Linked DNA regions of Homo sapiens. The protein of the gene in region 1 purifies or fractionates together with the protein of each later gene. This does not show direct contact. Each region holds a gene or a part of one and is shown in the gene's direction. Other genes may lie near its edges.

Region 1 (3,968 bases):
CACCTGAGGTCTGCAGCCACATGTGGCCCAGGACCACTTTGAATGTGGCCAAACACAAATTCGTAAACTTTCTTAAAACATTATGAAATTTAGGCAGGGCACAGCGGCTCACGCCTGTAATCCCAGCACTTTGTGAGGCTGAGGCAGGCAGATCACTTGAGGTCAGGAGTTCGTGACCAGCCTGGCCAACATGGTGAAACCTCGTCTCTACTAAAAATACAAAAATTAGCCGAGTGTGGTGGCACGCGCCTGTAATCCCAACTACTTGGGAGGCTGAGGCAGGAGAATCACTTGAACCCAGGAGTCGGAGGTTGCGGTGAGCCAAGATCACACCACTGAACTACAGCCTGGATGACAAAGTGAGACTCCGTCTCAAAAAAACAAAACTAAAACAAAGAAAAAAAAACTGAGGTTTTTTGTTTGTTTGTTTTTTGAGATGGAGTTTCGCTCTTGTTGCCCAGGCTGGAGTGCAATGGCGCGCAATCTCCACTCACCGCAACCTCCGCCTCCCGGGTTCAAGCAATTCTCCTGCCTCAGCCTTCCCAGTAGCTGGGATTATAGGCGCGCGCCACCACGCCCGGCTAATTTTGTATTTTTAGTAGACATGGGTTTCTCCATGTTGGTCAGGCTGGTCTCGAACTCCCAACCTCAGGTGATCCGCCCGTCTCGGCCTTCCAAAGTGCTGGGATTACAGGCGTGAGCCACCGCGCCCGGCCAAAACATTGAGGGTTTTTTTGGCGATTTTTTTTTAAGCTCATCAGCTATCGTTAGTGTTGGTGTATTTTACGTGTGGCCCAAGACAATTCTTCCAATGTGGCCCAGAGAAGCCAAAAGATTGGACACCTCCATTTATAGTATAAAATGAAAGCCACTAGGCTTTCGGCTCAGCCCCTTTTCCTTACACTGCCAGTCAGCTGCGCTCAGGGACCCGCAGTTCAGAGTTCAACACGGGCAGATTCCCTCTCTTCCTTGCTTGCTCCTGCCAGCCGCAGCCGTGGGCCAGTACAGCATGGCCCGGCCCCGCCCCGGCTCTTTCCAGAGGTCCGCAGCCTGGCCGGCCCAGCGGGCGGAACCGATAGTGTCTGGCACTTGGCTCGCCCGGACTCTGAATCCTGGAGCACCAGGCGCCCACGAGAACGCTGTTCTCTTTGGCTTCCGGGCGCACGCTACTCTGTCGCCGCCGTCAGACCGGAATTGCCGGTGCCGCCGCCACCGCTGTCTGTGCGCCCACCTCTGCTGCTACCATGGGGATCTTAGAGAAGATCTCGGAGATCGAGAAGGAGATCGCTCGGACACAGAAGAACAAGGGTGAGGGCCGGCCGGGCGGGGCCTTCCTTTCTGCCTGCCTCAGTTTTCCTGTCTGTAAAATGGGGGAACAACTCCAGCAGTAATGCTGGGGCAAGATCCGAGGCCGCGGAGAAGTTGCCAGACAAGTGCCGAGGCCGCCCTGCGCGCCCAAGGCAGGGCCAGGCGGGAGCGGGTCTCACGCCCAGGTCTGACTGCAAACGTACCCCAAGAGATCTGGTCAGTCCCAGACCGTGTGCCCGAGTAGAGTAGTCCCAGCTCACAGAGCAAGCATCTGACCCAGAGAGAGGCGGAGCTGGGGTTCAAACCTCAGTCTCCTGATGGCTGGGCCTGGGGCCTGGGTCTACTCTGTTGTTTTGGGAAGTGCAAGAGGAGACCTCTCAGGAACAGCCTCACCCAGCAGCTGAGAGCCCATTGGAGCAAGGGAATCAGGACTCTGGAGTCTGGAAGGCCTGGGTTTGAGCCCCAGGTCCACCACGTACCTTCTGTAAAACATTGGAAAGTCACTTCATTTCTTGGAGTCTCAGTGTCCTCATCTGTAAATGGGGTAATACTCCCCTGCTCCATCTTAGTACACAGCTGAGTTAAATTAGATGGCCTTTACAAAGCACTGGGCACATGGTGAGCACTCAGTATTTAAAGTAAACACCCCAACATAGATAATACATAATGAAGCCTCAAATCTGGACTTTAGAATGTAAGGGCTGGAGGAGCTCACAGAAGAGAGGTGAGGAGAGAACGATGACACCAGGACAAAGTGGGACTTGAGCTGGTTGTTGGAAGGGTATCCCAGGTGGGGGCCACTGCTGAGACAAAGACATGGGAGTGAGCATGGTATGTTCATGGGACAGTGAGAACAATCTAGATCAGAAGGGGGTTATGGAAGAGTAATGGGAGATGCAATTGGCCAGGCTAGTGGCTAGCCATTCAGGCTTGTGGGAGCAGGAAGCAAGCAACACTAGATAGCTGGTCCCAGTGTCTGCCCTCCCTTGGTTCCATTTAGGTTTGAAGGCCAAGGAGTTGAGGGCCCTCTATGACTCATTCCTTCTGTAAATCTTTTTTGTTTGTTTGTTTGAGACAGTCTTGTTCTGTCACCCAGGCTAGAGTGCAGTGGTGCCATCTGGGCTCACTGCAACCTCTGCCTCCCAGGTTCAAGCGATTCTCCTGCCTCAGCCTCCAAATAGCTGGGATTACAGGCACGTGCCACCACACCCGGCTAATTTTTGTATTTTTTTAGTAGAGAGGGGGTTTTGCCATGTCGTCCAGGCTGGTCTCAAACTCCTGACCTCAGGTGATCCACCCGCCTCGGCCTCCCAAAGTGCTGGGATTACAGGCATGAGCCACCGTGCCTGGCCGATCTTTCCTGAGCCTTTACTATGTGCTAGGCACTGTGGTTAAAGCAGTGAACACAGCAGGCATATCCCAGCCCTTGGATCTGATCTTCTAGTTGACGGTCTGAAAACTAGAAATCAAATAAATAAGATAATGTCAGCCAGCAATATGTGCTATGAAGACAAACCAGGGTGATACAGCAGAATATTGGGGGTGGGGAGGGACTGGGGATTGGGTCTGCTTAGGTGGAGTGATAGAGAAGACCACCATGAGGATGGGGCATTTGAACTAAGACCTGATTGAAAAGAAGGAACCGGTCACGCAAACATCTGGGGGAAGAGGGTTCCTGGCAGAAAGAGCAGCTAGTGCAAAGGCCCTGAGGCAGGAACAAACTTGGCTGTTTACAGGTCAACAGGACTGGGGCTGGGGTGCAGTGATGGGACAGGAGGGGGTTGATCATGCAGAGCCATAGGTCATGGGAAAGACTCTGGGTTGTGTTCTAAGGCAGTGGGAGCTGGTGCAGGGTGTTAAGCAGGGGAGGGGCTATTCTGACTTCTGTCTTGAAAGTTCCCTCTGGCTGCTGTAATATTCCATATTACCCATAAGACCCAAGGAAAGTCACAGGGAGGCTAGAGATGCTGCCACTTTGGCAGTAGTAGACAAAGGAGATATAAAGGTGATTAAGACCTAGTCCCTCCCTTCAGAGATGCTCAGAATTTTAGGAGCTGGGATGACAGGAAGGGCCATGTGTACCTGACTGACACTGAATCCTTTTTTTTTTTTTTTTTTTTTTTTGAGACAGTCTTGCTCTGTTGCCCAGGCTGGAGTGCTGGAGTGCAGTGGTGTGATCATAGCTCACTGTAACTTCAAACTCCTGCATTCGAGCAATCCTTCCACCTCCACCTCTTGAGTAGCTGGGACTACAGGTGTGCACCACCACACCGGGCTAATTTATATATATATATATATATATATATATATATATATATATTTTTTTTTTTTTTTTTTTTTTTTTTTGAGATGGAGTTTCACTCTTGTTGCCCAGGCTGGAGTGCAATGGTGCAATCTCGGCTCACCGCAACCTCCGCCTCCCAGGTTCAAGGGATTCTCCTGCCTCAGTCTCCCAGGTGTGTGCCACAACGCCCAGCTAATTTTGTGTCTTTAGTAGAGACAAGGTTTCTCCATGTTGGTCAGGCTGGTTTCGGACTCCGGACCTCAGTTGATCCGCCCACCTCGGCTTCCCAAAGTGCTGGGATTACAGGCGTGAGCCACCCCACCCGGCCAATTTTTATGTTTTTTGTAGAGGCACGGTCTCACTATGTTGCCCAGGG
Region 2 (3,500 bases), on another chromosome or scaffold:
GACAGGGTCTTGCTCTGTCGCCTATCCTGGAGTGCAGTGGCATGATCACAGCTCACTGCAGCCTCTACTTACTAGACTCAAGTAATCCTGCTACTTCTGCCTCCTGAGTAGCTGGAACTACAGGTGCACACCACCACACCCAGCTAATTTTTAAAAATTTTTTTGTAGAGACAGAGATCTTACTTTGTTGCCCAGGCTGGCCTCATATTCCTGGGCTCAAGCAATCCTCCACCTGGGCCTCCCAAAGTGCTAGGATTACAGGCATGAACCATGGCACCCAGCCTAATCCACATTTCTCAACCTTACCTGACCATAGACCCTGGTTTATACAGAACCTCTTACTGGACTCCTGATGAAATGTCACTTTGGGAAATGCTTATTAAGGTACCAGAACACAAGGGATGGAATATATTGGCTTCATTTCAAATTTGACTCCCTTTTGTGTTTTTTTTCCAGAACCAAGATCATTATGCAGTTCTTGGACTTGGCCATGTGAGATACAAGGCTACACAGAGACAGATCAAAGCAGCTCGTAAGTACTTAGTTATTTTGAAATAATCAAATATCTTGTATAGGAACAGGCTGGCTATGCTTTTTAAAAGATATACAGTATCATAGTCTGCAGCCATAACTACATTTAACAGCATGTGTTATATTGTCATAACAAGCAAAAAACCACGGTCTCCCCTGCCTTCAGAATCAGAAGAAAGCAATCCATTTTACATATAGACTTTCCCATTAGGGATAAGAAATTAGGATGGGTGTGTGTGTGTGGATACAAAATACTCCTCCAATGGCAAGCTTTTAAAAAATAATACTTCACCTCTCTTTAGAAGTATAGCAGCTGCACTTAGTGGATACTGCCTTTTTATTGTTTTTTGGTTTTTGGTTTTTTTTTTACGTTATTTTGTAATCTTAGGTCACACCTTTGTAGATATCACCCTGTCTTCTGTCCAAGAAAAGTTGTCTGATGTTTTATTGTTGTTTTCATTGACAAGGTTATAATTTGGCATGGGAGAGGGTAATGTTGGGACCCCAGTCTTCATATGCCTTATAAAACACCATCCCTTAATGCTCCTAAATGTCCTATGCTTTGCAATCCTGTGGACATAATTTCTTATACACGTGATCAGTTCAACTGATTAATAAAGTTTAGTGAAAGAGGTAAGAGGTGAAGGTGATCAGTTTTCTATCTTAGGAGAATGTTCTGCCCTCCACTCTAGAGAATGGATATTGAGGTCAGAGAGGGTAAGATTGTGGCCACATGGAAAAGGAGCAGGGAGTCAGGGCCTGTCAAGAAGAGGAAGTATTATATGTGGAGGAAGATGACTGAATAAGAATGCCTGTGGTAAAAATTATTAGTCAATACTTAGCATAGTAGATGAACTCAAAATCGTCCCCATTACTGCTTACATTTAGGAAAATCACAGGAAATATTTTTTAACAAAGTGAAGGAATTTATCAGATTATTTTAAACTGGATTTGTTTAAAGGCTGGCATGAGTCTAGACAAAGCATATGGTAATGCATGTGAATAGTTATTCCAGTATAAATAAATGCCAGAAAAGTCCATTTGCCACGTACAAGTGTTTGCAAAGTTTTACTATACGAAAGAATAGCATTGGCCGGGCGTGGTGGCTCACGCCTATAATCCCAACACTTTGGGAGGCCGAGACGGGTTGATCACCTGAGGTGAGGAATATGAGACCAGCCTGGCCAACGTGGAGAAACACCGTCTCTACTAAAAATACAAAAAAATTAGCTGGGTGTGGTGGTGGGCACCTGTATTCCCAGCTACTTGGGAGGCTGAGGCAGGAGAATTGCTTGAACCCAGGAGGCAGAGGTTGCAGTGAGCCGAGGTCGCACCATTGCGCTCCAGCCTGGGCAACAAGAGCGACACTCTGTTTCCGAAAAAATAGAATAGCATACAAATACCAAATATGTCTTAGTACAGATAAATTTGTTAATTAGAATTGATAATAGAACTGTGAGAATAGTTTGTGTTTTAAGGTGAAAGAATTCTTTCTCAGAAGATTAAAAATGTGCAATAAATTGTAAAAGAAGCATTCATATGCTTCTGTTAAATCCACTGTCTTTTTTTGAGACAGAATTTCGTACTTGTTGCGCAGGCTGGAGTGCAATGGCACCATCTTGGCTCACCACAACCTCCGCCTCCCAGGTTCAAGCGATTCTCCTGCCTCAGCCTCTTGAGTAGCTGGGATTAGAGGCATGTGCCACCACGCCCGGCTAATTTTGTATTTTTCATAGAGACGGGATTTCACCATGTTGGTCAGGCTGGTCTCGAACTCCCGACCTCAGGTGATCCACCCACATCGGCCTCCCAGAATGCTGGGATTACAGGCGTGAGCCACCGCACCCAGCCTAAATCCACTCTTTTTATTGGCCTTGTAGAAATTGATTTTTAGCCAGGCACAGTGGGTCACACCTGTAATCCCAACACTTTGGAAGACCAAGGCAGGCAGATTACTTGAGGCTGGAGTTCAATACTAGCCCGGCCAATGTGGTGAAACCCCATCTCTACTAAAAATACAAAAATTAGCCAGGTGCGGTGGCGCATGCCTGTAAGCCCAACTACTTGGGAGGCTGAGGCATGAGAATCGCTTGAACCTGGGAGGCGGAAGTTGCAGTGAGCGAAGATTGTACCACTGCAGTCCAACCTGAGCAACAGAGTGAGAGAGTGAGACTCTGTCTCATTAAAAAAAAAAAAAAGAAAGAAAGAAAGAAAAGAAATTCAGCTTTTGAATATGTATTCTCTAGCCAAAAATTTTGCAGCACCAGTGTAGAGATTGTTAACAATAAGGGTAATTCTAACTTACTCTCTACCACCCTTGTGGAATATTCCGTCAGTCTTTATTTAGAAAGAAACTGTCATTCTCTCACCTCTGTCACTGTAAAACACAGTTGCTACTCATTGCTTTCTGAAAATCTATCTAAAAGTTAAAATGCAAAGTTACTGTTTGCAAATCTATAATTATTAGCACAAACCTAATAAAAATGTAAATCTGGTACCATTTGATGTCCTTTGAATGCTTGCTTCATATTACAAGCAAAGTTTTATTTTTGTTGAGTATATTTTGAATGTCAGTAATGAAAATTAATTAAGTGTGAAGTAGGAGCCGGGTGCGGTGGCTCACACTTGTAATCCTAGCACTTTGGGAGGCTGGGGCAGGTGGATCACCTGAGGTCAGGAGTTCGAGACCAGCCTGGCCAACATGGCGAAACCCCGTCTCTACTAAAAATATAAAAATTAGGCGGGCATGGAGACGCATGCCTGTAATCCCAGCTACTTGGGCGGCTGCGGCACGAGAACCGCTTGAAACTGGGAGGCAGAGGTTGCAGCCAGCCGAGATTGCACCATTGCACTCCAGCCTGGGTGACAGAGGGAAACTGCCTCAAAAAATGCCCAAAAAAATACCAAAAATATTTGTCACTGTTTCTGAACCCTTGCAGTATATGTTGAAATAAATAATTTTATTATGC
Region 3 (3,500 bases), on another chromosome or scaffold:
CTTTTTTGAGTGCCAACATGATGCTGAGAGGAAATACTCGGAGCATTTTGGATTTCGGATTTCCAGATTAGGGATGCTCAGCTGGTAAGTATAGTGCAGCTATTCCAAAATCTGAAAAAATTCAAAAGCCAAAAAACACTTCGGGTCCTAAGGACCTTGGATGAGGGATACTTGTACTACTGTTAGCTTTGGACACACTGTGGCTACTGTTGCATTCTGTTATTTTGCATTCGTTTTGCATTTAGAGATGGCTGAGTACATGAGAAAAAATTCCAAACTGGGGATTTGGTTTTGGTAAAAATAGGATGAATGCATTCAGGTGAATTTAATGTCTCTAATTTGGGAGTTTGAATGGAGGACTTGATTGCATTATGAAGAAAAGCAGTGGGGTCTGCGTCCATGGAGGCCTTTTAAATAATGATGTACATTGCTTTCTGGAAATCAGTATTCACCTTAGAGCAGTGACTTCTGAACTTGGCATCAGAATTTCCTGGGGGAACTCTTAAATAATAGGGATTCTTAGGTTCAATCTCAGACCTACTGAATCAGAATCTGTATGTCGTACCCAAGAATCTGCATTTAAAAAAAAAAAATCTATCCTTTGGCTGGGCGAGGTGGCTCACGCCTGTAATCCCAGCACTTTAGAGTTGAGGTGGGAGGATCGCCGGATGCCAGGCCAGGAGTTCGATACCAGTCTGGGCAACATATTGAGAGTCTGTCTCTTGAAAAAAAAAAAAGAAGAAAAAAAAAGGTAAATAAATAAAAATCTACCCTGGAGATGGTGTAATGGCTGGCATGTATATTGGGATTGGGAGTTGGGAACTGTTGCCTGTTGGATGACTGTGTTTCTCTGAGCTATATGATTTTGTGACATACAAATTAACTTTTACAGGCAGCAGCACATGTTGATATTTATTCTGAGCTAGGTAGACCAGTTAACATTCCGACTAAAGTCTGTCCTACCCATGGGGGAAATGACATTCCTTAAAATTTAATGCTGAAACTGAAAATAGCCATGGGGATTATTATTGCCAAATATGTTTTTTATTAGTTTCCCTTTTTATTTTGCAGGTATGCAAGGCAGATGAGAAATTTAATCAGCTGGTCCATTTTCTTCGCAATCATAAGCAGGAGAAACACCTGGTCTTCTTCAGGTACTCCTCTGGTCTCTGTGGTAGAGGCATCAGGGATTCAGCCAGAATGTGCAGGTGCATGCGGCCTTTGGGTTTTGGATTCCATCTAGCATGGTTCTCTCCGGAATGCTTTTGGCTGCAAATAACTGAAAACCCAACTTTTGTTGTCCGAACAAGGTTGGCTTTATTTTTCTCCCGTAAAAAGTCGTCCAAAGGCAGGCAGTTTCTCACATGGGTTTCATGTGTCAGTCATGTCAAGGTCAATGTTGATGTGATTGGTCTTCTCTTCCTATGTGTCACCTCATGGATTCTGGATGACCACTATTACACCCTGTCATGTCTCCACTGAAGAAAGATAAGGGGGGAAAGGCAGAGGGGGCTTAGGGCAATGTTAGCTATATCCATGCCTTTTAATCAGGAGAGCAAAGAGCTTCTTCAGAAACCCCTCTGCCCTAGTTGACTTCAGCTGTGAATTCATCTTAGGGGCCAAAAGTGGGTCACGTGGTGGCCCCTCACTTCAAGAGCAGCAGAGAAAATGAGTGCGCAGCTTTTCTGCCTCTGTAGTAGTGGCCAGTGAAGCAAGAAGTGGTTGGGAATAGTGTTTATCAGCCACCCATGGAGTCCGCCACAGTGGGGTTTTGTCCTGTGGTCAGAAGGCAGCGTAGGGACAGATGCATATGTTCTTTGGACTGGTTGGTTCTTTTCCCCTTTTCTCCAGAGATAAATGTGTTGATCTTTAGTAGTACATAAAAAATAATTTTATATTTATTTATATATTTATATTTATAATTTCTTTTCTATCTGTTATCCTACAAATAAAATGCAATATTGACCATGACCCACAGTAAGAAGTACAATTTGGTACACACCCAAACAAGACAATAAAACAAAGGTTTTCATGAAACTGCACCCTGCTAGGTGGGATGTTTTCTATTCTGTTCTACTCCAGCTGTTAATTTTTTTAAAATGCTGGTCGAGACCCACTAAATTGATTTCAGAACCCACCAGGTCTGTGGGTTGTGAGGCTTAGTGTGTGAAACACCACTTCATTACATACTATGTGACTCAAGGTGGAAAAGAGCGGTCACAGCACAGGTGGAGGGACTGAAGTAGACAAGAGTTAGCCCAAACTGGAATGCAGTAGTGCAGTAGTCTGGTCTAGTGGGAGGAGCATTAGACCTGGGTTCTGGTTCTGCCACTTACTCTGTGTCTCTGGTAAGTTTTAGTTCCCTCATCTGCAAAAGGATGGGAAGTCACTTGGGAATGCTTCCAGTTAAGGAAAAGGGTCCAGGGTGAACTTTATTAGAAGGGTGCCGGGTAAGGAGCTCACAGATTCAGAGAATGTTGAGTGTCCAGCTCCCAGGGAAGGAGGCTCCCTGGCAGGAGTTCATGGGCCATCTCTTTAGGGCATATCTTTATTGGGATGACTGCCAACCCCTTTTTGTCTTTGGATGACTCAGCTCCAAGTCCCAAATATCTGGGAGAAGGGATCTGACTGGCCTAGCTTGGGTTATTTGCTGAGCCCTTGGGAATCCTGCTAATTGGGAAAGAAGCAGTTCCCTAAACGGAAAGCAGAAATGTTTTTAAATCTTGTAACACTATTTGTGGCTAAGATGTCATTGCTTTTGTTCTGAATGACTGTTTCACTTTAATTCCTTTCTCGGGGTCAGGGAGATTTCCCGTGAGAACATCTTTAGACAGTAAAATATGTCCTTGGGGGTTTTAATTCATGTTTAAGGGATTTTGTCAAAAGATTGGCCTTTCATTGGCTGAGAGGATTACAGATTGAGAACTCAGTTGTGGATGATTTCCACTGCCATTTTCCTTGTCATTCCCCTAGGGAGGGCTTGTAGTTAGGTTGCGTCTGCTGCAGCTATTGCTCACTGTTCCCCTCTCCCGGTTGTAGAAGGACCAAAGTGGCCAATGACTCTAAGCCCTCTGTCCCTCTTGCAGCACCTGTGCCTGTGTGGAATACTATGGGAAGGCTCTGGAAGTGCTGGTGAAGGGCGTGAAGATTATGTGCATTCACGGAAAGATGAAATATAAACGCAATAAGATCTTCATGGAGTTCCGCAAATTGCAAAGGTGGGTGGGCTTCATTGAAGGTAGCAGCTCTCCTGCCACACTGCTCTTTCAGGTCCCCAAATGCCCCATTCTCTAGTAGCCTGTGCTGTCCGCATGTGTTGTCTTTCCTGCCTGGAACCCTCTTCCCTCTCTAATCTGGTTATCACATCTCTGTAAACACCCCGAGCCTCCATTGCCCTGTTCCAATTGCTTTGCCTTTTGCTATGTCATTTCCCTAGTTACTGAACTTCTGTGCTAGACAGCAGGCTCCGTGACACAGGAGTCCTGTGTATTGTCTTCACT
Region 4 (3,500 bases), on another chromosome or scaffold:
GCACTTTGGGAGGTTGAGGAGGGCGGATCACCTGAGGTCAGGAGTTCAAGACCAGTCTGACCAACATGGAGAAACCCCATCTCTACTAAAAATACAAAATTAGCAGGGCATGGTGGCAGGCGCCTGTAATCCCAGCTACTCGGGAGGCTGAGGCAGGCAGGAGAATCGCTTGAACCTGGGATGTGGAGGTTGCGATCACACCATTGCACTCCAGCCTGGGGAACAAGAGTGAAACTCCATCTCAAAAAAAAAAAAAAAAAAAAAAAAAAAAAAAAACCTGGTTATATAGAATAGCATCATTTTTACCAGCTCCCACATCAAGATTGCCTTGAAACTAAATATTTTAAGCTTTTTCCCCCATGCCATTTAATTTGTAATTTTTAAAATAAACAGTATTTGAAAGCTTCTAAGACATCTGCTTTCTGTAGGTTGGAACATGTGACCAGTTGAAACAGGGCCTTCTATCAAGTTCATTTTTATGCTTTGTGCATTACCCTTATACTAGAATCACTTGTGCATTACCCTTATACTAGAATCACAGATTTCCTCTGCTTTGCCTGCCAGTTAGCAGCTTGTTTCTTAGTGCTGAAAAAAATTTTTTTTTATTTTTCTTAAATGCCTTTTATGAAAACTATCAATAAAAAATTTATATCTCTATTCCCCCAAGGTCTTAAATTTAATTGTATCAGAAAAATTTTAAGGGAGGGAGAATTTGAAATCTGATTGTACTATCTTAAAAAGCAGAATACTTTTAAATACTGTAAATATGGGTATTCATAGCTGATCCTTTTTTCCTGTTTCTAGGACTATCCTATTAAGTGTAATCTCACTGCTTAATGAGCCCAACACCTTCTCCCCAGCCAATGTCGATGCTTCAGTTATGTTCAGGAAATGGAGAGACAGTAAAGGAAAAGACAAAGAATATGCTGAAATTATTAGGTAAGGTTTTTTTTTTTATTACCTCAAGTTATACAAAACCAAAATATATTCTGGAACCAAGGGTTTAAATCAAACTTAAATATCCTGTCCATTCCAGGATAATTTTCCTCTATTAGATTTATAGTGTGGGAAGAGAAGATTTCTGCCTGAGCCTAAAGAACTTTGCTGTTTACCGAGAGAACAGCCACTAGAAGATAAGGCAGTAGCAGACCTGATTTTCTAGGAACCAGAACTTCTAGGTTCTGGCCAGGCATGGTGGCTCATGCCTGTAATCCCAGCACTTTGGGAGGCTGAGGCAGGCGGATCACCTGAGGTCAGGAGTTCGAGACCGGCTGGCCAACATGGTGAAACCCTGTCTCTACTAAAAATACAAAAATTAGCCAGGTGTGGTGGTGCACACCTGTCATCCCAGCTACTCAGGAGGCTGAGGCAGGAGAATTGCTTGAACCCGGGAGTTGAATGTTGCAGTGAGCTGAGATCACACCACTGCACTCCAGCCTGGGCGACAGTGCGAGACTCCATCTCAAAAAAAAAAAAAAATTGAATAAATAAAGCCTTCCAGTTTATTGGCATTCCTGACCATAGCAGCAAGGATTGTTTGGAAATCCTCATTATCAGCAACACTAATGTATGGTATAACAGAGCCCTAGAATAAGATTCAGGGGACTTGGAATCTACTCATGGGACCATTTATCAGATAATTTTTGGGGTCTTTTACTTTCTCCTCTGTATAAAATGGAAAAAAGCTTAACCTTTAATCTCTTAGGACATCAGGTTCTTATAATAGTACCCAAGAAATTTGCAATAAATACAAACCCTACACTTCCCCTACCCTCCACCTCTTTTTTATTTGTTTCTAATTAATTTTTTTTTTCTTTTTGAGATGGAGTCTTACTCTGTCATCCAGGCCGGAGTGCAGTGGTGTGATCTCGGCTCACTGCAGCCTCTATCTCCTGGGTTCAAGCAATTCTCCTGCCTCAGCCTCCCGAGTAGCTGGGATTATAGGCGCCTACCACCATGCCCAGCTAATTTTTGGATTTTTAGTAGTGACAGGGTTTCACCATGTTGGCCAAGCTAGTCTCGAACTCCTGACCTCATGATCCACCCGCCTTGGCCTCCCAAAGTGCTGGAATTACAGGCGTGAGCCACTGCACTCAGCCTCCTCCACCTCTTTTTAAAGAAACAGACATGGTCTTACTCTGTTGCCTGGGCTGGAGTGCAATGGTGTGATTACATGGTAACTTCAAATTCCCGGGCTCAGGCAGTCCTCCCACCTGGGCCTCCTGAGTAACTAAGACTATAGGCATGCACCACCACACCCAGCTAATTTCTATTATTATTTTTGTAGAGATGAGGTCTTGCTGTGTTGCCCAGCCTGGTCTTGAACTCTTGGCCTCAAGTGATCCTCCTGCCTCAGCCTCCCAAAGCTCTGGGATTATAGGTGTGAGCCACCGTGCCTGGCCTCCACCCCCCTTGATATTACATTTTTATTTCTTAAAATAGAGACCCCAAATACAGTTACAGCTTCCTCTGTGCATAGGAGTTGACTAAGCATTGGCATTTATACAAATAAGAATAAAATCTAGTTGGCTTGAGACCATGTGATATGAAAAAAGTTAAAACAATGCTGGGAAAGGACATGAGGTGACTGCTGAGTAATATAAAATCAGCAGTTCTAAGTTTTCTGCCCATTGGGATCACTTTTAAACTGTCCCTAAACAATAGCTGTCTTTTATGGGATTACAAGGACAGAGTTTGGGCATCTGTGTGTGTATATATATCTCACCTAGGTGACTGATGTGTACCAAACATTGAAGATAATTAGTAGAAATATTAAGATCCTACAGAAATTTAGAGGAGTGGGAGTGTACTAAGGATTGAAAGATCAGAAAGCTTAGGTATACATATTCCCAAGGTACTTCTATATATTTCTTAATTTGTTTAAGGGTCCGTTTATCTCATTCTATCTATTCCTTAATGACCTAGTACAGTACCTGACACTAAGCAACAGCTTTGTGTTAGGTACTCATTAAGGCATAGCCTGTCTCCTTAGGGAGCTCACTTTATTAGCATTTGAAAACAAATGACCATGTAGTATTATACCTATAGAAGCCTAAACAAGATACACTGGGAGAAATATATAATGTAATAGATTTCCTAGCAGAGATAATTCCTTATAACCAATACTTTTTCAGGTGAAAAAAGGGAAAATACCCATGTTTGCTAAAATACAGGAGTATAACAGCATGACATGTTAAGGGGATTACAAATGCTTGAGTGTAAATTCTGATGTGGGAAATATTAGAAAATTAAGCAAGAGAGGCACCAGGGTCTTCAAAGACATTGAAGTCATGATAAGAGTATGGTTCTTAATGTAAGAAGTGATGGGGTACCACTTAAATATTTTTGGGAGGGAAGAGGTGATGCTATTTGAGTTCTGATAAAAGAATTGGCTGCCTGGTGTGGTAGCTCACACCTGTAATCCCAACATTTTGAGGCGGGTGGATCACCTGAGGTCAAGAGTTCGAGACCAACCTGGCCAACATGGTGAAATCCCATCT
Region 5 (3,127 bases), on another chromosome or scaffold:
CCCCTGTATTCCCAAGCAACATCTCACTTTCAGGCAAACAATGGTCTAGCAATCAAGCATTAAGGCACACACCGCATGTCACCTTGCACAGGTTAATCTCTTTCAGATTTCTTTAAAGGGATAGTAATTGTGCCTATTTCATAGAGTTGCTGTGAAAATTAAAGAACATAATTTATGTAAGGTGACTAACATGGGGTAAACCTTCACTAGCTTTCAATTGATATTAATCCAAAGTTCAGCACACCTTAATTTCTGTTTTACATTGAAATGAACACATGCAGCTTTTCCTCACAGTATGATTTTATCCTATGTGTATTTTTCTTCTTTCTCTTTCTGTTGGTTCTAGGTCAAGTCTGGATGATTACTGTCCTTCTGACCAAGTTGACACTATTCAAGAAAAGGTCCTCAATATGCTACGTGCCCTCTATGGAAATCTAGACCTCCAAGTGTATGCAGCAGAGTCTCCTCCATCTTGAAACAAACAAAACATTAGGCTCCTGTTGTATCTTGGTTTAGTAACAGGCCCTTAATTAACTTATTTGTACATGAGTCTTCCAGAGAACACTGTTTTATATTAACTTTCAGTTGAAATCTTTCAGATATTTTGAATCTCTGAACAACCATTGTCAGTTGTGAATGATGGTAAATTTTTTGGCATCAAGTCTCATAACCCCAACTGATAGAACTGTTGCTTATCTGTCTTCCTTAAGTATTTTTTAGGGTTTTGTTTTTTTTTTTGTTTGTTTGTTTGTTTGTCTTCACTTTTCCCCCAGGTCTGTTGAGCTGTATGAGATTCATTCATACTTCATTTATTCATTCAACTAATATTTGTTGAACACTTACATGTACCAGACATTATTAAGTGCTGGGTATATGGTAATGAACAGAATAGACAAGGCCCCTGCCCTTTTAGGGGAGACAGATGAGAAGTAAATTACGGGTTATGAGAAATGTTATGAAGGAAAGGACAACAACAGACATGTCTTAGTACTTAGGGTATCATGGCTTTATAGGAAAGTAACATTCTCTATCTTTTTTTTTTTTTTTAATTTTATAAAAATAGAGATGGGGTCTCACCATGTTACCCAGGCTGGTCTCAAACTCCTGGGCACAAGCAATCCACCTGCCTTCGCCTCCCGAAGTGCTGGGATTACAGATGTAAGTCACTACCCCAGCCAGAAACTAACATTCTCAAAAGCTACTACCAAAAAAACCCCACAAATTTGCCAATCCATGAAAGTATCATAGGAAGTCTACCTTTCCAAGGAATTTGGCATTGTGGCCCTGCTCTTGCCAAATGCTCTCCAGCATTGTTGGTATCAAGGTGGTCTGGTTGAGTAAACTTGACCAAACAAAAATTAACTGTTTTTTGCTTTTCTGTTTTTGTTTTGCTGATCAAAAAAGCCCTTCAGGGTCTCTTGTGCATCCAGGAGGTCATTGTAGATATCAATAATATAGTGCCTAAGTGCCACTTTATTGCCAAGTCTAGATTGATACTTTTTTCAGATAAACCAGCTTTTTATGTAAAGAGTAAGGGAAAAAGTTAAATCTTTAATTCTGACCTGCCATAAATACCCAAAGATATAAACTGTCTTCCACCACCCCCCTCATAACTAAGACATCCTTCCTGAGTCACTCTTAATCATGAAACTTGATTTTCTCAATTGGCCAGTCTTCTGATCTTTAGTATCTCTTTAGTTCAGTAATTTTTACCTACCTACTTGATTTATTTTCCTTTAAAAGGTGAAATGACATTTAAAGAAAAACAAACACCCATCATTCCTCAGTCCCAACACAGCAGTTCTTTTCACTCTTGCTTGTAACTTTCAGGCCTTACCCACATGTGTTCCTATAGAGTTGCATGTAGCTAAAATTATAGTGTGCTGCCTAACTTTGTGCTAATAACGAAGGACACACATTATCATTGCCTCACAGTGGATGGCACCTGACCCCATTTTTCCAAGGATTCTATTTTCCAGTGAATTTTTGTCACCGAGTTAATTTCCCAAGTCTGATAGCATGAATGCTTATTTGTGCTGTGAAAAGCAGAGCAGCCTGACTCAGCTTTCCATTTTCATAGGATAATATGTGCCAAAAAAGGTTTATTTTCTTGGTAAAATCAGAATTGTAGAATTGTGCTATTTTTAATTTTTAAAATTTTTGGTTAGAGCTTATAGACATTACTTTTATGATTATTTTGCGTGCTAAATAAGTTAAAGGGTATGTTTTGAACTATAGCACTAATTAATGTGTGTGATCCTAGTATGTTGATAGCTTTGATTTTGTGAGTGGTTTACTAGTCATTTATTATGATTCCCATGAACTCTGATATGATTCATTGTGGTTTTAACTCAGGTTGAATAAAAGCATCCATTTCTTTTATAGGAAGGTTTGTTTAATTCTCATGTTCTGTGATCATCTCTTTGAGAATAAAATTCAGTCCCTAATAGTTGAAAAGAATCAACTTAGTAAATTATGTCTTGCACATTCCAAATAGGAAGGTATTTACTTTATCAAGATGTGTTTCATTTGTGTTCTGAGTACCAGTGAGGGGATACCGTGGTACAGTGTTTTGAATTGTGTACTAATATCATTAAAGCATGGGATTTTAGTGGCTTTTTAAAAAATGTGACTTAAGTGTAAGCGTAGACTTTAACTTAATAAGTTGTGTATTTCCTAGTATCTACGGGGAAAAAATTTAAGTCCAGCCTTTCATAATAACCTTTTGACTGTCAATTTTAGATCTCTTTAGAAACATTTCCTATAGTTGGCCATGCGCGGTGGCTCACGCCTGTAATCCCAGCACTTTGGGAGACCGAGGTGGGCGGATCACGAGGTTAGGAGATCGAGACCATACTGGTTAACACGGTGAAACCCCGTCTCCACCAAAAATACAAAAAAAAAAAAAATTCTCCAGGCGTGTAGGCAAGCACCCGTAGTCCCAGCTACTCCGGAGGCTGAGGCAGGAGAATGGCGGAAGCCCAGGAGGCGGAGCTTGCAGTGAGCCAAGATCGCACCACTGCACTCCAGCCTGGGCGACGGAGACAGACTCTGTCTCCAAAAAAAAAAAAGAAAGAAATATTTCCTATAGGCACGGGTCTTTATGTGTTCTAGCTTCTCAAGGAGC
Region 6 (3,500 bases), on another chromosome or scaffold:
CTCACATCACTTCTTATCTAGTTTTCATATTTCTGTTCATCGTACCAACCACCTCTCAGAGACACCTTAGCATGGACATCATCATCTTTGACTCTTTAATGTTCCCCCAGCCAAATCTGCTCAGTTTGCCGGGTCTTATTTTACCTTGGTAATCTCTCTTGAATATATGAGTGAGCTGAGATCACGCCACTGCACTCCAGCCTGGCCGACAGAGTGAGACTCTGTCTCAAAAAAAAAAAAAGAAAAAAGAAAAAATTCTGAGAGTCAACTGGGTGATTCTGGGTTGCACAGCTGATCTCTCTATGCTCTTTCACATGTCTGTGGTTAGCTGGTGGGTGACCTGGCATCTGATCTACAATGGCCTCATGCACATGTCTGGCATTCACAGGCTGTTGGCCGAGTGCTTCATTTCTACATGTAGCCTTCTATCCTCCAGCAGACTATCTCACTGTCATGCACATAGTAGTCCATGGTTCCAAGTGCTGCAAGAGAGATTAAGCCTCAATACACACATGTTTTTCTAGGTCTCTGCTTGGATCCCATTTGCTGCTATACAAGCCTATATTCAAGGATAGAGAAATAGACTGAGTTCTAATGGGAGGAGCCACAAAATTGCATCACAAAGAGACAGGAAGAATTTGTGGCCATTGTTGGAGTGCATCACATTGTCTTTCCCCAGTTTATCCTAAAACAGCCACTAATTTAATTTTGTTTTACAACTCAGCCCCGATGGGATTATCCTCTGCTTTAAAACTGTCAGTAGTACCCTCTTGCCCCTAAATGGTGTAGAAACAGTAGCTTAATCTGCCTCAACCCATCTTTCTAGCTTAATTTTTCTCTGCTCCCCTTTCTCTACCCAAGTTGGACTAGTTTCACAACTGGTCCACCTAGCCTTTAAGGCCCAGCTCATATACCAGCACGTGCATGAATCCTTCCTAGATTTTCCTCTCCTTAGTCCTCACATTTGCTTCTCTCTACCTCTTAAGTTGAAATGGTGTTCCCTTCTTTGGTTTTCTCATAAATGTTTGCACCTTTCTTGTAGTAGTTGTGATTTTTTACCTTATAATTATATGTGTATGTGACCCACCTCGCCCACCACACTGACAACTCTTTTAAGAGCTGGAACCTAAGCTGGACATCACACCTGTAATCCCAGCTACTTGGGAGGCTGAGGTGGGAAGATTGCTTGAGCAATCTTCAGGAGTTTGAGTCCAGCCTGGACTTAAAATAGCAAGACTGTCTTAAAAAAAAAAAAAAATTAAAATTAAAAAAAATAAAGAGCTGGAACCTGAACTCGTTCATCTTCATAGCTATCCATGCGTAATATTCGGAATTCTGTCTTGCACATAGCCATCAAAATATTTGAGTTAATTTTTGAATAATGCTATTTCCCAATTATTATAATGTTATTTTAAAAATCAGTTAATTTTTAAATTTTTCTTTCAGACCAGAAACTAGAGAACAGTATCCAAATAAATTTATCCAGCGAGATGATACTGAAAGATTTTACATTCTGAACACACTATTCAACCTACCAGGTAGATTCATTCTATGCTTATTTATACTGATGCTTTCCCTTCTGTGACCATTAGTCTGTATTCAAGGGAGGTAATGAAATAAGTTTGAATTATTTCATTATAGCTTATGAATATCTGTTCTTCATTTTTCAGAGACCTACCTGTTGGCCTGCCTAGTAGATTTTTTTACTAATTGTCCCAGATATACCAGGTATGTATATACTATAATTATTTTTTTCCAATTGATTTTTAAAATTAATGCACAGGGTTTTAGAGAACTGGCCATTGTAGGTCTTTTCTGCTTTTCTAAAGTGAATTTAGTGCTAGTGAGAGATGCCACATTGCCAACCTGAGAGATGGGACAGCACCAGCAGCTCCATGCAGGCTCTCACCTCCCACACGGCCCCTCTCCTTGCCAGTGTGCTGCAGCCACCACTTCTGATTGGCTTCTCCTGGGAATGAAGACGGCCAGCAGAGGTGCTAATTGTGACAACTGAGTGGGAGGTTTGTGTGATGATTATCTGTCCAAGCAGAATTACACTAAAACCCCCCAACTCATTTCACAGCAGCTACCCAGGAGCCATTCAGGGATGGTAATTTAATTTCATTCCCAGGCCAGGCAAGATTTGATTAAGGAATAAATACTGTGTATCTTATCAGAAGTAAAATTTTGCGTAAGTCTTAAACAAGTTATCCTCTCCCTTTAGGGAGAATTATATAGCCAATACTGAAAGTTTAGCCATCTATATACCAGAGTTGGCTAACTTCTTATCCTCTTTGGGCTTTATCCACTTGAAGACACTAAATTTGGTGGAAAGCTGAGTCACTGAACTAAATAAAAAAATGGACAGTACCTTTGTACTTAGGGACAGTGTCAGGAAAGTCAGGGTGGAAAGAACCTAAATGACCAATTTTAAGTTTTAAATGTTTCTTCAACCTGTTTCTAAAAAGTGATAAATAAAAAAACCTGACATTTTTGGAACTTTGGCCTTTTAGCTTCCATTCAATATATTCTTCTATCACTTTGTATTTGTTCACAATTACTGTATTCCATTGAACACTATAGCCATTTCTGGTGGTCAAAGTGGACTTTCATTAGGGAGTAATTATTTTCCTCATTAGCCACAGCCTTTACCCATGTGATATGGAACCTTTGGGTCCCCTGGGAAATTTTTGATATATATTTTGTTTACCCTGTTTTGGATCCCCTGTCATGTTATTTTTATCTTTCTGTAGTTGTGAAACAGGATTTAAAGATGGGGACCTCTTCATGTCCTACCGGAGTATGTTCCAGGATGTAAGAGATGCTGTTGACTGGGTTCATTACAAGGTACCTAGAAGCTGTTTCTTCACCTGCTTGCTTTCTGGCATGTATTTTATGGCGTGGCATTAACTTTCCAAATGGAGCAGAATATTTCTTTTTTTAAAAAAAGAAAAAACAGATTTGCCCCCGCCTAGTGATAGCCCTCTAGAATACATTTGTTCTTGTCTTTGGTCTCGGTGGTAATGTTGATCTTTCCTCAGTGATGGTGTTTGGCTTCTGGATTTTATTTTAGTTTGCATTTCTCAAACTTAGAAGAGGTTTTAGTGTATTACATTATACTTAACATATCCTTTGTGGATGACAGTGGTCCATTTTTTTTGTCCAGATACCTCCCACCCGACTAATAACATTAATAAATATTAAATTTACATGTATTATAAACTATTGAATAAAATATGAAATGCCTTTTAATTTCAAACTTAAAATAGAAACTGTTTTATATTTTGAAGACAAATTTTAGAGGCAGGGTTGCAGCAAATCATACCTGCTACTTTTTTCTGGCCTTCTCTAGTTTGTCCACTTTTCCATTTTGGTAAATCCTTAAGAAATGCATTTGGGGCTGGGCATGATGGCTCATGCCTGTAATCCCAGCACTTTGTGATGCCAAGGCAGGTGGATTGCTTGAGCTCAGGAGTTCAAGACTAGCCTGGGCAACATGA
Region 7 (4,288 bases), on another chromosome or scaffold:
CAAAACATCGAACACGCAGTGTGCTTACTAAACGCTAAAATACAGAAACCTAAAAAAACAATTCTTGCTTTTCAAACATCCATAAATAATCGCCAACGAATTTTTCCTGGCAAGTCTACGTTATAATAATAATAATATTATTATTATTATTATTATTTTTTGAGACGGAGTCTTGCCCTGTCGCCCAAGCTGGAGTGCAGTGGCGCAGTCTCGGCTCACTGCAACCTCCGCCTCCTGGGTTCAAGCGATTCTCCTGCCCCAGCCTCCCCAGTAGCTGGGATTACAGGTGCGCGCTTCCATGCCCAGCTAATTTTTGCATTTTTAGTAGAGACGGGGTTTCACCATGTTGGTCAGGCTGGTCTCGAACTTCTGACCTCGTGATCCGCCCGCCCCGGTCTCCCAAAGTGCTGGGATTACAGGTGTGAGCCACCGCGCCCGGCTATAATAATTATTATAAAATTCAAATCTTAAGGCCGCACATGGTGGCTCACGCCTGTAATCCCAGCACTTTGGGAAGCGGAGGTGGGCCGCTCACCTGAGATCAGGAGTTCGAGTCCAGCCTGGCCAACATGGTGAAACCCCGTCTCTAATAAACACAAAAATTAGCCAAGCATGGTGCCGGACGCCTGTAGTCCCTGTTACTGGGGAGGCTGAGGCAGGAGAATCGCTTGAATCTGGGAGGCGGAGGTTGCGGTGAGCCGAGATCGCGCCACGGCACTCCAGCCTCGACAACAGAGCAAAACTCCGTCCCAATAAATAAATAAATAAATAAAATAAAAATCTTAAGGGTCTAGTCACAACAGTTCAAAAGTCTCCAAAGGGAGACTCTCACCTTCAAGCTTGTAAGTAATACTAAAGTTCTAGATTTGCTGGAAGTTATCTCCTTCAATGGATTACAGCACATGATCTAGCAATAATAACGTACCTTGTCACCACATCGAATGATTTTGAACACTTCCCATCAATCGACTACCGACTAACAAAAAGAAGGACTTGATTCCCGGCAATTTTTTCTCTTCTGAACTGAGCATTCCCGAAATCCAGCTTGCTGAACGCGCAGATGCAGGGTGAGAGGCACCCCAGGAAAAATGGAAGGGAAAGTGGTACAAGTTAAAACAGTCTTCGTGGCCGCAGAGACGATCGCTACCTCGGCCATGGCAGATCTGGGGGTCCGGGGCGGGGGTTCTTCCCTGATACCCACCGGGCACGCGAGTTCACGCCAGCGACAGTGGAAAGCCCTCCCCTCGCAGCGCGCTCCGCCACTAGCCGCACCCCGCCGAGCTCTGACCTCCGAAGAGGGTCCCTGTGGCGATCCCGCCCCTTCGTCTGATGTTTGTGCCTTTGATTGGCTCTTAGGTGGATCCCTCAGCGTGGCTTGCCCAATGGAGCAATGCCGGCTGGTGGCCTGGCCGCTCCGCCCCTTCCCTACCCCTCGCGGAGGGCCCGCCCCCTGCCCCGCGCCGGCTAGCGGAGGAGAGTAAATACAACAGGAGCGCAAAATGGCGGAACCGCCGAGCCCCGTGCACTGTGTCGCTGCCGCGGCCCCCACCGCCACCGTCTCGGAGAAAGAACCGTTTGGCAAGCTGCAACTCTCCTCCCGGGACCCTCCGGGTTCTCTGTCCGCCAAGAAGGTCCGGACTGAGGAGAAGAAGGCACCGCGGAGAGTGAACGGAGAAGGGGGCAGCGGCGGGAACAGCAGGCAGCTGCAGCCGCCGGCAGCACCTTCGCCTCAGAGCTATGGCAGCCCCGCGTCTTGGAGCTTTGCCCCTCTGTCTGCTGCTCCCTCCCCGTCCTCTTCTCGGAGCAGTTTCTCTTTCTCCGCTGGCACGGCCGTTCCCTCCTCAGCCTCCGCTTCCTTGTCTCAGCCGGTGCCGCGCAAACTGCTGGTCCCTCCTACGCTGCTGCACGCTCAGCCTCACCATCTCCTCCTGCCCGCCGCCGCCGCCGCTGCCTCGGCTAACGCCAAGTCGCGCAGACCTAAGGAGAAGCGGGAGAAGGAGAGGAGGAGGCACGGTCTCGGTGGGGCCCGAGAGGCCGGCGGGGCCTCCCGGGAGGAGAACGGGGAGGTGAAGCCGCTGCCCCGAGGTGGGTGCCGTGCGGGGAGGGGGAGGGGAGGGCGCCGTGGGTCCCCGCCGCCCCCTGGCGCCCACGGGGCCCGGGAAGGGGGAGCGCGGCGGCCGCGTGCGCCGGCCTGGAGGGGCTGGGAGGCGTCCGGTTTTCAGCAGAGGATTTTGCAGTTCCCAAGGGGACAGGAAATGGAGCCTGTAATTTCGGTTGCAGAGAGGGGGATGGCCGACACTCTTATTTTCTGTATCGTTTCTTCCTCCCAGTTAGTGCGCTGCAGGATTTGTGAAAATCCATCTTGAGGACTCTCCTAGGTTTGTTTGGCTAGGGAGAGAGATGGAGGGAACGGGATGGGGGAAGGGTTTGGTTTTGTAAAAGATGCTTGATTGATTGTTAGACCACTTAGACGTGGTCGCGGGAATTCGTATTTGTGACACAGCGTTCAACCCCGGATAATCCTGTCAAAAAAGGGGTGTGGAGAGAGCACTGGCGTCAGCTGGAAGCTACCAGAGGCCTGAGCTTTTCATCCCTATTAGGGAAATGAGGTAGCGTGCAGGGCCCGAAGTGCGCTGTTTCGTAAGGTACCCTCCCTGCACCCTACTCTCCGCTGCGTATTCTTAAGTGTTTTGGGTGGTCCTGTTTGAAATACCACCCTTCTGAAAGAATTTTCAGCCATATTCTTTTTTTCCCTGCAGCAAATGATAAAACCAGGAGCTTTGACGATTTTTCGCCAGATCAAGCGGCTGCAGAATGTTTGAGCATTAGAAAAAGGCGAATTCTTAAGGGTTCTTGTCAGACAGGGTCAGTTTTGTTTTTAAATGTAGGCTAGTCGTATAATTTTTCAGGTGTTTCCACCACTTCAGCTACGGATACACAATGATCTGACAATAGTGCAACATACGGACTAGTTGAAAATCAAATCTTTATGTGATCGCAAGCTTAAAGCGCATAATCTTTATTATAAATGTGCACTGCTACACAGTGTTGTCAAATAACTCTTTTTGTTTTTTAGAAAAAGAAATGTCAAGCAGTTTCAGCATTGCTGATCTAACAGTAGCTCAGATCATGAAAAATTCTGTTTGGATTATAATGGTTTGTTTTCACAACTTAAAACATGCTGCATGTGCATGTAGCAATAGTGTCACTTCTTCCTTGATATTTTTTGCCTGTAGCAAAGCTTTAACATCTAAGCATAGCCATCAGGGACTCTGGTGCAATGTAAATATCTTTCAGCTTCTGGGAGTGTTGTTTCTAGGAAAGTGGTTTTGAGGATGGGATTTTGGTACTTTTAGTCAGGAATTCCAGGTGATTAGTATTTTAAAGCTATTTTGTTTTAACAATTTATATGTAAAATTTAGGAGATAAGTGCCTGGAAGTTTGTCCATATGCAGCTTGGTATCATCACTAGTGTTTGTGGTGTGTAAACTGCACATTTGCTGTAAGTTCTCTGAAAGAGGAAGTGAATATGAGTATTACATAGTTGGAGTAATGGAATATTTGAGAAGAAATAAGTAAGCATTCTTTAACAATTCTAACTTAAAATGTGGAGTACACAAATGGTCCTTAAAGTGAAATGGCTGTTAAAGAGGAATTTTTATAGTCTTTTCAATTACATTTAGAATCCTTCTTCTTTTGAGGGTTAACACTAATATTATTAATCCTGAATATAAACAGTGATAGGTTTTACATTAAGATGTGGGAATGATCTTTTCCCATGACCTATGTGGGTTTTTTGGAGTAGTGACAAGATATTAACACTACTGTAAGATTTTCATTTTTTCAGACACAAATGCTATCTTGTTGAGGAAAAACTATCAGAGAAAAAGATTCCTTTCCAGTGTCTTGGTGGTAAATTTAATGGTGAAAATTTTTCCCTCGTAACTTGGGGAATACTTATATCTTTCTAAAGTTTGGATTTAACTGAATTGATGTTCTGTTTTAACGAATTAAGAAGATTCTTAAATAGCGGTATTAACAAGTGGTATAGCAAGAATACATATATGCCTTTATTATAGATATAATTGCAAATATGAAAGTCCTGATTTGCAATACAATGATCATTTCTCTGTGCTTTTTGTAAAAATCTTAGTGAATGGGTGACCAAGTGTTTGTTTAGGTATATACCTCTTTTTAGTGTTGCCCTAAGTTGGCTGTGCATGGTTCAGTAACCCCTCAATTATCCACAGCTGGCTGATTGAACAGTCTGAGTCAGAACCAGACATTA

The links.
Region 2: the proteins of DRG2 (region 1) and DNAJC2 purify together in Homo sapiens (affinity purification with western blotting; one study listed by BioGRID). This does not show direct contact.
Region 3: the proteins of DRG2 (region 1) and DDX55 fractionate together in Homo sapiens (co-fractionation; one large-scale study listed by BioGRID). This does not show direct contact.
Region 4: the proteins of DRG2 (region 1) and UBE2R2 fractionate together in Homo sapiens (co-fractionation; one large-scale study listed by BioGRID). This does not show direct contact.
Region 5: the proteins of DRG2 (region 1) and C5orf22 fractionate together in Homo sapiens (co-fractionation; one large-scale study listed by BioGRID). This does not show direct contact.
Region 6: the proteins of DRG2 (region 1) and NT5C2 fractionate together in Homo sapiens (co-fractionation; one large-scale study listed by BioGRID). This does not show direct contact.
Region 7: the proteins of DRG2 (region 1) and RSBN1L fractionate together in Homo sapiens (co-fractionation; one large-scale study listed by BioGRID). This does not show direct contact.

The regions. Positions count from the first base shown.
Region 1 is NC_000017.11:18,086,780-18,090,747, forward strand, and holds the start of DRG2 (developmentally-regulated GTP-binding protein 2), read left to right. Parts: upstream 1-1,168; 5' UTR 1,169-1,244; coding exon 1,245-1,308; intron 1,309-3,968. UniProt on the Homo sapiens protein: Catalyzes the conversion of GTP to GDP through hydrolysis of the gamma-phosphate bond in GTP. When hydroxylated at C-3 of 'Lys-21' by JMJD7, may bind to RNA and play a role in translation.
Region 2 is NC_000007.14:103,334,768-103,338,267, reverse strand, and holds part of DNAJC2 (dnaJ homolog subfamily C member 2), read left to right. Parts: intron 1-456; coding exon 457-532; intron 533-3,500. UniProt on the Homo sapiens protein: Acts both as a chaperone in the cytosol and as a chromatin regulator in the nucleus.
Region 3 is NC_000012.12:123,612,099-123,615,598, forward strand, and holds part of DDX55 (ATP-dependent RNA helicase DDX55), read left to right. Parts: intron 1-1,022; exon of another isoform or gene 1,023-1,071; coding exon 1,072-1,154; coding exon of another isoform or gene 1,155-1,208; exon of another isoform or gene 1,209-1,867; intron 1,868-3,086; coding exon 3,087-3,218; intron 3,219-3,500. UniProt on the Homo sapiens protein: Probable ATP-binding RNA helicase. Has ATPase activity and is involved in the maturation of precursor large subunit rRNAs.
Region 4 is NC_000009.12:33,911,160-33,914,659, forward strand, and holds part of UBE2R2 (ubiquitin-conjugating enzyme E2 R2), read left to right. Parts: intron 1-804; coding exon 805-939; intron 940-3,500. UniProt on the Homo sapiens protein: E2 ubiquitin-conjugating enzyme that accepts ubiquitin from an E1 ubiquitin-activating protein, and catalyzes its covalent attachment to other proteins by an E3 ubiquitin-protein ligase complex.
Region 5 is NC_000005.10:31,552,427-31,555,553, forward strand, and holds the end of C5orf22 (UPF0489 protein C5orf22), read left to right. Parts: intron 1-346; coding exon 347-476; 3' UTR 477-2,627; downstream 2,628-3,127.
Region 6 is NC_000010.11:103,099,273-103,102,772, reverse strand, and holds part of NT5C2 (cytosolic purine 5'-nucleotidase), read left to right. Parts: intron 1-1,446; coding exon 1,447-1,538; intron 1,539-1,670; coding exon 1,671-1,728; intron 1,729-1,808; exon of another isoform or gene 1,809-2,021; intron 2,022-2,091; exon of another isoform or gene 2,092-2,110; intron 2,111-2,753; coding exon 2,754-2,847; intron 2,848-3,500. UniProt on the Homo sapiens protein: Broad specificity cytosolic 5'-nucleotidase that catalyzes the dephosphorylation of 6-hydroxypurine nucleoside 5'-monophosphates.
Region 7 is NC_000007.14:77,694,971-77,699,258, forward strand, and holds the start of RSBN1L (lysine-specific demethylase RSBN1L), read left to right. Parts: upstream 1-1,488; 5' UTR 1,489-1,499; coding exon 1,500-2,085; exon of another isoform or gene 2,086-2,375; intron 2,376-4,288. UniProt on the Homo sapiens protein: Lysine-specific demethylase that specifically demethylates methylated lysine residues of proteins.